Regions from separate parts of the Homo sapiens genome. Here region 2 is linked to region 1. The links come from fine-mapping of genetic effects on gene expression. Tissue or cell type: whole blood. Region 1 holds a variant in brackets; the other region holds the start of a gene. All regions are shown on one strand. Distances are between the middles of the regions.

What was found. PIP is the estimated chance that this variant, and not a neighbour inherited with it, causes the effect.
Region 2: MCC starts here. The variant in region 1 is fine-mapped to the expression of MCC in whole blood (TOPMed, PIP above 0.99). The same link has a PIP of 0.9 or more in blood mononuclear cells.

Annotation. Positions count from the first base shown.
Region 1 is chr5:113,059,541-113,064,540 of GRCh38, forward strand. It overlaps MCC (MCC regulator of Wnt signaling pathway), which reads right to left. Exons shown (of 19, transcript NM_001085377.2): 14 at 4,444-4,627. Among named protein-coding and RNA genes, the nearest start is that of DCP2, 85 kb to the left of the region's middle. The variant T/C (reference allele first, on the strand shown) is at 2,966.
Region 2 is chr5:113,485,847-113,490,846 of GRCh38, forward strand. MCC (MCC regulator of Wnt signaling pathway) reads right to left here and starts at 2,607. Exons shown (of 19, transcript NM_001085377.2): 1 at 2,399-2,607. The coding sequence starts at 2,568. RefSeq lists an enhancer at 2,506-2,800.

The DNA of each region.
Region 1 (5,000 bases):
TTCTGTGGCTGCATTATTCCTCCTCTCCAGAACAGGAGCCTGTCTGTGTTCTCTGAGAGCGACTGTGGGGGAAGGCTAATGACAAAAACCCTCGCCACACATGTGTGTCTTGCTCTGGCTTCTTGAGGAGCTAGTCTAGGATGTGTGGGTTTCTCCTTTCCGTGATGCTCTGCTGGAGCTCCCGTCACGCTGGCTTTCCTCTGCATCTGTTCATTGCCAGCAGCTCTTCCAGCACAAAGCATACACAGCAGGCCTGTAGCCTGGTGGGAATGCGGGGCTGGCTGGTTCGGGACGGTTCGGGCCGACCCACTCTCCACCTACCCTGTCCACTATAGGAGAAGCTGTTCAAACCAGCTATCGACGTCAAATATCCTCTCTTCTATCCCTCTCCACCATGCCCCACCTCTGTCCTCAAGACAGTCCCCCAGCCTGCTCATTAGAAGAAAAATTCATTTTTCATAGCCTCCTCAGCTTGCCTTGGTGGAAGGCTAGAAGGACATTTCATTTCTTTTGCCTTGAAAATCCGTGATGACATTTTCCTGAAGTTTTCATCAACATCTTACCTGGCCCTAGCTGAGATCTCATTTCCATCAAGGAGCAGCTCTTTTTGTTTGTTTGTTTGTTTGTTTGTTTGAGACAGAGTCTCACTCTGTTGCCCACACTGGAGTGCAATAGCATGATTTGGCTCACCACAGCCTCCGCCTCCTGGGTTCAAGCAATTCTCCTGCCTCAGCCTCCTGAGTAGCTGGGACTACAGGCATGTACCACCATGCCTGGCTAAATTTTGTATTTTTAATAGCAACAGGATTTCACTATGTTGTCCAGGGTGGTCTCAAACTCCTGACCTCATGATCTGCCCGCCTCAGCCTCCCAAAGTGCTGGGATTACAGGTGTGAGTCACTGCGCCCGGCCTAGCAGCTCATTTTTAGAAGGAAAGTGCCCTGGGGGTGGGCATCTGTTTTGCTGAGCATTTGAAATTTATCTGAATGAGTGGGGTCAGTCCAATGTCCTTTCCAGTGAGAGTCCTAGAATGGAGAACTTTACCATCCTATGCATTTTGCAATGCTGGCATTTTAATTGCTTAGTTTTACAACAAACATACAGTTCTTTTGAAATCAAGAAGTTAGATCTCACTAGAAAAAAAACCATAAAAAGCATTCCATGTCTATACCTTGTTCTCATAGAACCTAAAAGGTAAGTGATGAGGACATTTGAGCAGGAGGACTGATCATAATGCTGTCATGTCAAGGATGTGTCGGGGCTGGTCTCTAGAGCTCACTAACACCAGTAAGCGTTTGTCTCAAGGACTTTGGATAGACTCTCCTGACACACAGATGGAAAAGCACCTCTCCTCAGTAAAGATGACTGTTTCAGCCAGATCTAGTCTGACTCTCATTCCCTGAAGCTTACTGATGCCTGTTCTAACTAGGTGGCTGTTTCAAAAAATTCACCCTTTCAATGGACATGATTTCACTCTCCTCAACCATTTTTTCTGCCCCAATGAAACTTTACCTTAATCCAGACTAGTTCAAAGAGTGAGAGCTAGGCATCTCTTGAGCTCTGCTGCTGTCCAGTCCAACTTGGGGATTACACCCCAGAGTGAGTGGCCACACAGGCAGCACCCTGGCTACCTGGAGGTACCTAGAGGCTCACGGCAAGGCTGCAACCACCATTCTCACAGCTCTCCAGGGTCCCCACCTGGTGCTGAGACAAGGGACTCAATTTCAGTCTCTGAGAGTACAGACTTGCTGTGGCCGATCCTGTCTTGGCCACAGTTCCTTTGTGGATTGAGATCGATGACTACGCTGCACAGAAGGAGCTGAACTGTGAGGCCTGCCACAGAGGGTGGGCTTGACCAAGGATTCCTATTTCCACTTCCTAACATTTTAGTCCTTGTGCCTCTTTGTCATGATATGTTGATAAAGCCATCCAGGCAATCAACCTAGTCACTCTGTCCATAAGACTATTATACTTTCTGATGAGGCCATGGCTATATTTTTCAAAAATGAAGTGGCACCGACCCTGGGCACCTGCCAACAGTCAACTGAGGGTTGGCTATCACTTTTATTCTCCTTGCTGGTTAACTACCCCTCTGCTGCTCCTCTCTAAAACCATTAACCCTCCTGTCGTTAGGAGCTGCCTATGGGCTGCCAGAAATGCCGCTGGAGGCACAATACTCAGCGTTTCTTTCCTGAACCCTTGAGGGGCAGTTGATGGACACTCTGATTAGACCTCTTGAAGCTGGGTGGTTACAGCGGGGGGAAAGGAGATTTGCTGGGCCACATAAAGCTCCAACTCAGAAAGATCCTTTTCTTTATTTTCATAAACTTGACAAGGGGGAATGTCTGAGCCAGAATGGCAAGATTTACAAACAAAATTACTATAATTATCATAATTATGAAAGGGGTCTGGTGCTTTGGGACTTTATTCTAAACCCACGTTTAACATAAAGCAGTCTAATTGCATCAGGTTCTAAGAATGTGGAGTGACAAATGAATGCCTCGTGTGTGGTTCTTCCATCCTCGGAGCTGCTCTGATTTGGGCGGGAGGGTAAAAGTGATTTTTTAAGGAGAATTGGGTGACATTGGAGCTAAAGACCTCTGTACTTTGATGGGAAGATCCATTTGAGACTGAAATTAATTTAAGAACCATTCTTTGGTGAGGTTATCCTTGGAAACAATGACTCTGTGTTTTGAATTTATCTCAATCTGCAGAAAAACAGGATCCCAAATTAAATTTCTCTAAGAAAACAGTCTCAAAATCAAGGCTAACCTGTAAGTTCAAGTACTTCTAACAAATATTCAAAAGCTAAATAGATGGTGATAAAATTGTTCTCCCTCCTGACTGGTTCTAAATTTGTCTCTGATTCAGAATAAAACCACAACATTCTTTTTGGGGGTAGGGAGGTTTGAGCAAATGATCCGTAGCACAAACCTCATAAGCTACTGAAACAGCACACATTTCC[T/C]GTCAAGCAAACTCTTATGTTCACTAATAAAACAACACAGCATCACTGACAACATGAGAACTACATTTCTATACTAAATAAACACACAAATTATAGATTATACACATCTGGAAGAGTCATTAAGAAGAGCATCTGCTTTCTGTGTTTACACAGTAGAATATGGTTTTATGAAAAAAATTATAATCTGTGCTTCACTGAATGAGACAATTGTTGCTGAAGTAAAGAAGAATCAAGTCCCTTTTGTTTGTGGGCACCTGGCTGAGTGCATTACTGGGCATGTTCCCTCTCCTGGGACACCTGGGCCAGTAGAGGTAAATGGAAGCGCTAAGGTAGATGGCGGGTCCCACCAGGGGAGAAAGAGAGAGGGGAACATTAAGTTGCTTTCCAGCACCAAGAAAGCATCAGTATTTCTCCTCTGGCTCTCAACAGTCAATCTATCTTTATGCAGTTCTGGTCACTTAGTCTGCAAGTAGACACTGTTTTGTTATGTCATGAGATCCAATGTGGGAAGAACAATATGCTCGATGCTAAGATCCCGGGTTCCCATCCAGGTTTCCCTCTTATCACCAGGCAGGTCACTGACATTATCTCTGAGCCAAGGTTTCCTAACCTGTGAAAATGGAGTAAGTTACCCTTCCAAGTCTTTCACGATTTGGCAATTAAGTAAGAATCTCTAACAAAGTGTCTTCTAAACTGAGGACTGGTAAATAAAGGGAAGGCATTCGTGTTTTTAGGGCTTTGGTGGCAAGAAATGAGAAGGTAAGTAGAAAGGGTTTTGTTCTGACTCTCCACTCCCATCCAAAGAATGAAATGACTTCAGCAAATTATGCTCTGCAAGGTCTTCGCCGCTCTCTTCCTAGCTTCCTTTTTCAAGCACCCACTTTAATTTCCTAGATTCACAGACAGTGAACTTGACCTCAGGTTCATGACTGAGTGCCTGTAAGCATGTGCTGTGAATGTGGCATCATTCCATGAGGCAAAAGAGATGAGAGGAGAGGCTCTTGCCTGAGAAGAGCTTATAGACGATGGAGGCACAAGAAGACAGGAGAGTGATGTCTGGAACTAGGATGAGCTGGGCTGGGCCTTGGGACCAGAGGGACCATTTGGAGCAAACGGCTCTTGGCTACCCTAAGTGCTTCCTGGAAATGAAGACTTATAAAGAAATGGAGAACAGAACAATGCAGAGAAAATGGATCTGACAGAAAGGTAGGTTTGCATTCCATCTCTACCACTTTCCACAGCAAATCTCTCCAATCTCGACTGCAGTTTCCACATTGGCAAAGTGAGAGGGCCACTTTCTAGCTCTTCTGTTCTGATCTTCTGACTCCTTTTTGGATGGAGCAGGCTGCATGCCAGAAGCCATGTCTGCCTTTTCCCAAGCCACACAGTCCCCAAGAGCTGGGTCACTGCACACCAAGTCCAGTGAACAGATGCCATGTGGACACACGCCCACCCCAGAGCAGAAGGCTGAGCATTACCTGGTGTGGCTGTTGGAGGAAAGGCTCTCCCAGGGCTGCACGCTGCAGCCGGCCACGGCAAAGGCTCCCCCACAGCTGCCGTCCAGCTTCATGAGCAGGGCCTTGGCAGCGTTCTCAGCTGTCTTCCGGCAGTCATGAGCTCGCTTGAGCATCTGAGTGATGTTTTCATCCCCCGACTGGTCTCCTATGTGGCAGAGAAGCCAACGGATTAATCAACATAGGCCTGGACAAGGCACGCCTGGGAGGGACTATGCATAATTAACTCTGTTACTTAGGGCAGAGGTGGCACTGTGGAAGGGAATTGGCAGTGCCCAGCCGAAGAGAAGATCTGTGTTCTGGGCCTGGCACTATCACTTAGACGCTACATGTGGGAAGGTATTTCTCTGCTCTTTCTCTGGGCTCCACTGGCCTCAGGGACAAGTGTAGGAGTTAACCAATGGGATCACCACATTTCTGTTTCCAGCTCTAACACGCTCTGATTTTTCTAATGATCCAGGCTCCTGGCTTCTCCTCCCATTCAGCCACAAGTCTACCATTTGGCCATTCCTCTGTGCATT
Region 2 (5,000 bases), 430 kb after region 1:
TTTAACGTCTTTAGATGAATCCAAAGTTTTTAAGGTTTTAATGTTAAAAAGTCCAACTCTCATGTCTGATAGAACAGGAATGCACAACCCTCCAAACCACATCACCCACTACAGAGTGGTAAGTACAGGTCATTAAATGAAAGCAGCACAGAAAAGTGGCTTCAGAGAGGGAATCATTTAATGCCCCTTACCTTCATTAGCCCCATTCCCCAAGTCTTACCACATAAACGTAAATTCCAGGTAAAACTGTGCTTACCAGGTAAACACACTTCCAGACAAGTTCCTTGTTGCCCTAGATTGCCATCCCTAAACTTCTCCTACATGGCAATTCTGCCACAGCATAATTTTCAGGGCAGCTCCACCCACAGTTAAAGTTATGATTTAGGGTTCATTACTACACATACCTTGAAACTTTTAAGCAGACACATTAAAGTAATGCAGCTCAAGGAATGTTAACAACTTTTTCCACTTTTGCCCCAGCCAGTTTCTACTCTAATCCAAAACGGCTTCTTTATCACCACCCACTTTACTCAAATTACGCTTACAGAATTCATTATCCTCCCGGGTAGAATCACCGAAAATAATGTGAGCATTTATATAGAAAGTGTAGTTCAGATAAAGCAATATATTAATAGGCCAAATTAGAAAAGGATAGCACGCTGCTAGTTTTCTGTATGCACTCTTGCCCGTGTGAAATTAAACTTTTTTGCATCCATGCGGGGAGCGGTGGCTCAGGCCTGTAATCTCAGCGCTTCCTAAGGCCGAGGCGGGCGGATCACTTAGGGTCAGGAATTCGAGACCAGCCTGGCCAAATTGTGAAGCCCCTTCTCTACTAAAAATACGAAAATTAGCCGGGAGTGGTAGTGGGCACCTGTAATCCCAGCTACTCGGGAAGCTGAGGCAGGAGAATCTCTTGAACCAGGAGGCGGAGGTTGCAGTGAGCCAAGACCACGCCACTGTACTCCAGCCTGGGTGATAGAGCGAGATTCTGTCTAAAAAAAAAAAAAATTGTATCCAAAGTTGGAGTTTGCCTTTATTATTGCAAATGAGATAATAACCTTTCAAGTAGGAAAACAACAAAAAGGAAAACTATATAATGAAATTTCTTTTACTCCCAGAACCAAAATAACGAGACTTCCAGATAGAAATTTGCATGGAGTCAATCAGAATTACATATTATTTTCATTTCCGAACAGAATTACTCCATCAAGTTTTCTGATATCTTCCTAATGTTTCTCAGTAAAACTTTAGCAAAGTAATAAAAATTCACCTAAGAATGATCAAAATTGCGTTGAGTCCCAAATAAATAATTTTTTTTATTTTAAGGGAAAAATTCCGCACTTTGCTTTCTTTTTTTTTTTTTTAGGTAGGCAGGGACAATCAGGAAGCAGCCCCGGATTTTCAGAAACGATCTTTAGCATCACCAAGACATAGACTAAAGAAACATGTAATGCACAACTTAGGCTGCTCCTTCATCCAAGGCAATTCAAATTTCCACGGATACCAAGTCTTCAATGGCCGGTGTCAACCATTCAATAGAAGCATACCAGAAAATGTTGCGATTGCCTTCTTCACCACAAGAGTCTAAGTGACACAAATTTGGGCAGAAGTAATTATTTGGCCAAGCCGGGAGGCAGGAAGCTTAAATACCGCCTCTGTAGGAAGTGCGGGGGATCCGAAGCAAACACCCCAAAGTTTGTTTGTGAGTGGAGGCGCGGAGGCGCCCGGAGCCACGCCGAAGCTCACCTGGTCAGCGCACAGAGCCGGGTAGGAGTCGGGTCTAGCCCTAGTTTGCTCCTGAGCGCTTCGTTCCTCTCAGGCTACTGCGTTTAAATCAATACTGGGTGGCAAACGATACCCATTCTTTGGGCTCTGAAGTTTGGAATTCATGGGTTCTGCGGCACAAGAAAGTTTCTTCACAGGTTATTTCCCTGTCCGAGGCTGTCGCTTAGCTCATCTCCTCCCGGTGCGGCCCTGGGGTGTCCACCAAGCCGCCGGGCAGATCGCTGCCCCGTGCTGCGGCATCTTGATGCCCAGGACCCCGAGGCTGTGGGGCAGCCCCTCCTACCTGGGACAAGCGGCCAGAACTCCTTTTCCCACAGGGAAGAACACTCCAAGCCCCCGGAAGAGTGCGCATCCTAAGGAGATGTCTCCCAACGCCTAGACAAAGACAGCGCTGGGAAAAGTTGGACCAACTGGCACCCCCGCAAGGCGAACAGAGCAGTCCCCTCGGCCTTCGTGGCCGAGCCGGCTACGCGCTCTCGGAGTCGCGGCCAACTTTTCCCGCGAGCTTCTGAGCAACTTGCCGCAAGTTGGGGCGAGGGGGCAGAGCAGGGGTCAAGGGCGCGCGGAGGGACTGATCTCGCTCCTGTCGGTTTCCTCGTACCTCCCCGCGTACCTGCTGATGTATCCGTCCCCGTCGCCGTCGCACGTCTGGAAGAGGCGCCGCATCCTCTCCTCCTCGCCGGTGCTGGACGTGTCGCTGCTGCTGCTGCTGCTGCCGCTGCCGCCGCCGCCGCCGCCGCTGCTGGAGCTCCCCGCAGCCGCTGCCGCCGCGGCCGCCATCATGCGCCCGCTCCCTACTTGGGAGGAGGAGTACGCGCGACCGCAGCTGGAATCCGCGCGGCGCGCAAGCTGCCTGCAGCCCCGAACTTGCCTGACAACGGAGCATGCCCAGTGGCCGCCGGGGCGCTCCGGGCGAGGGATTCCACCTCTCCGGGTTTTGCCCGGACTGGGAAGATGGGCGCTCTGGAATCGCCCGAGGAGGCACCTCAGGGAAGAGGGAGGAGGGGAAGGTGGCTGGAAGAGTCAGGGAGCTAAGGGTGGCAACGGGAACACAAGAGGAGGCAGAATACACTGGAAGCCCCCGGGAAGGGTGTCAGCATTGTGCATCCGGCAACGACGCGGGCCCGGGACACTTGGGGACGCTTCAGGCAGAGGGCAGGTGTACTCCCGGCAGACCTTCTCCGACCGCCCGGAGTCATGGCTTCCTTTTCCAGAGAAGCTATATAAACACTCTCCTTCTGCAAACTCAAAACGGTGCTTGTAATCCCACTCTCCAGGATTGTTCCGGGTTCTGTACCCATAGCCACCAATGAGAACCGGAATGACTGGCCTTTTTATGAAATTTTGACACCTGTCAAGAAACCTGGCCCTCGCAGCCCTCATCTTGGCTCCCACTCTGTACTGGGAAGAGTCTGCACGCTGTGTGGCATTGTGTACGTTGGGTCAATTTCTGGAAACGGCTCACTCTACTGGCCAGGCATCACTAGAATTTCCCCCAACAGCTTTAATAATGCCAAGAGCGAACATAATAGATGGTCTCATTTGATCCACACTACAGACCTGGAAGATGCCTCTTTTATTATCAATCCTACGACTTAGGAAGTATTAATAGATAAGTACCTCATAGAGTTATCTTACATATAAAAGGAGAGCAGACATAATGCAGTTAGGACAATGTCTGACACCTAGTAAGTGCTCAACAACTGTTAGCTCTCATTGTTCCCAATTTACAGGTAAGAAAACTGAGGTACCAAGACCTGCTCAAGGTTCCAGGTTTAGTAAGTGTTAGGGCAGAGGCAAGCCCGGGCAGCCTAACTCCAGAGCAGGAGCCTTTAAACACTGCACTATTCCCCCATAGCCAAAGGGAAACCACAGTGAAGCAATTTGTGGTTTCGTGAATGACTCATTATTCTGTCCTGGATTTTCTGCCAGAGAGGCGTGTGAAGTTCTCTGGTGGTTTTAAAATATGTCCACAGATTCTTTGGTGCACCCCTCATCAAGAGGTGGAGTCTGTTGCTTCCCCTAAACCTGGATTGGACTTGTGACTGCCTTGACTTCTGAGACTAGGTTAGAAAAGGCAATGCAGATTGCACTTGGCTCTCTCCCTTGGGACACTTACCTTTGAAGCCTTGAGCTGCCTGAAAAGAAGTTTGGCTACCCTGAAGCTGGAGAAACCATGCAGAAAGACCATGTAAAGAAAAAAGGAGATGACCAAAGAGCTACAGCTGTTCTAGCCCTGGATCTTAGAATCTTCCCAGACTAGGTGCCAGACATGAGTGAGAGATGATGCTAGCTCTAGATGCTGCAACTGCATTGGAGACCCTGAGCAAAACTGGCTAACCAACCCCCAGAGCTGTGAAGATAATAATTAAAAATTGTTGTTTTAAGCCATTAAGTTTTGAGGTGATTTGTTATGCAGCAATATATAACTGGAACAAGTCCATATGTCTTGGGAATGTCTGCTAGGTCAGAAGGAAGGAATCTCTGCTCTCTTTCTCCTCCTCTCCACCCCATCTACCTATTCCTACTTTACTTCTTTATTATTCTCTAAGTTCCCAGTATTTCAGGGCACTAAAATCATAGATTCATGAGTTAATGAGTTAATGGGTTATCATGGGAGTGGGACTAGTGACTTTATAAGAAGAGAAGGAGAGACCTGAGTTAGCAGGCTCAGCCCCCTTGCCATGTGATGCCCTGCACTGTTTTGGGACTCTGCACAGAGTCCCCACCAGCAGGGTGGCCCATTGACCTTGGACTTTTCATTCTCCAGAACTGTAAGAAATAAATTCATTTCTTTATAAATCACCCTAGTTTCAGGTAGTCTGTTCTAAGCAACAGAAAATTGACAAGACCAGAAATTAGTACCGGGAGTGGGGTGTTAACGAAAACGAATACCTGAAAATGGAGAAGCAGCTTTGAAACTGGATAATGAGCAGAGGCTACAAGAATGAAGCAGCAGTCTAGAAAAAGCCTAGGTTCTAGTGAGGGCTGAGAAGACAGGAAGAACAGGGAAAGTTTGGAACTCCTTAGAAATTGGTTAAATGGTCATAATCAGAATGCTGATGGAACTATGGACAGTAAAGGCCATTCTGACAAGGTCTCAGATGGAACTGAGGAACAAGGTACAAGAAAATGGAGTAAAGACCATCCTTGTTATAAATTGGCAAAGAACTTAGCTGAACTGTTCTATGCCTGAGGGCTTTCTGGAAGGCTGA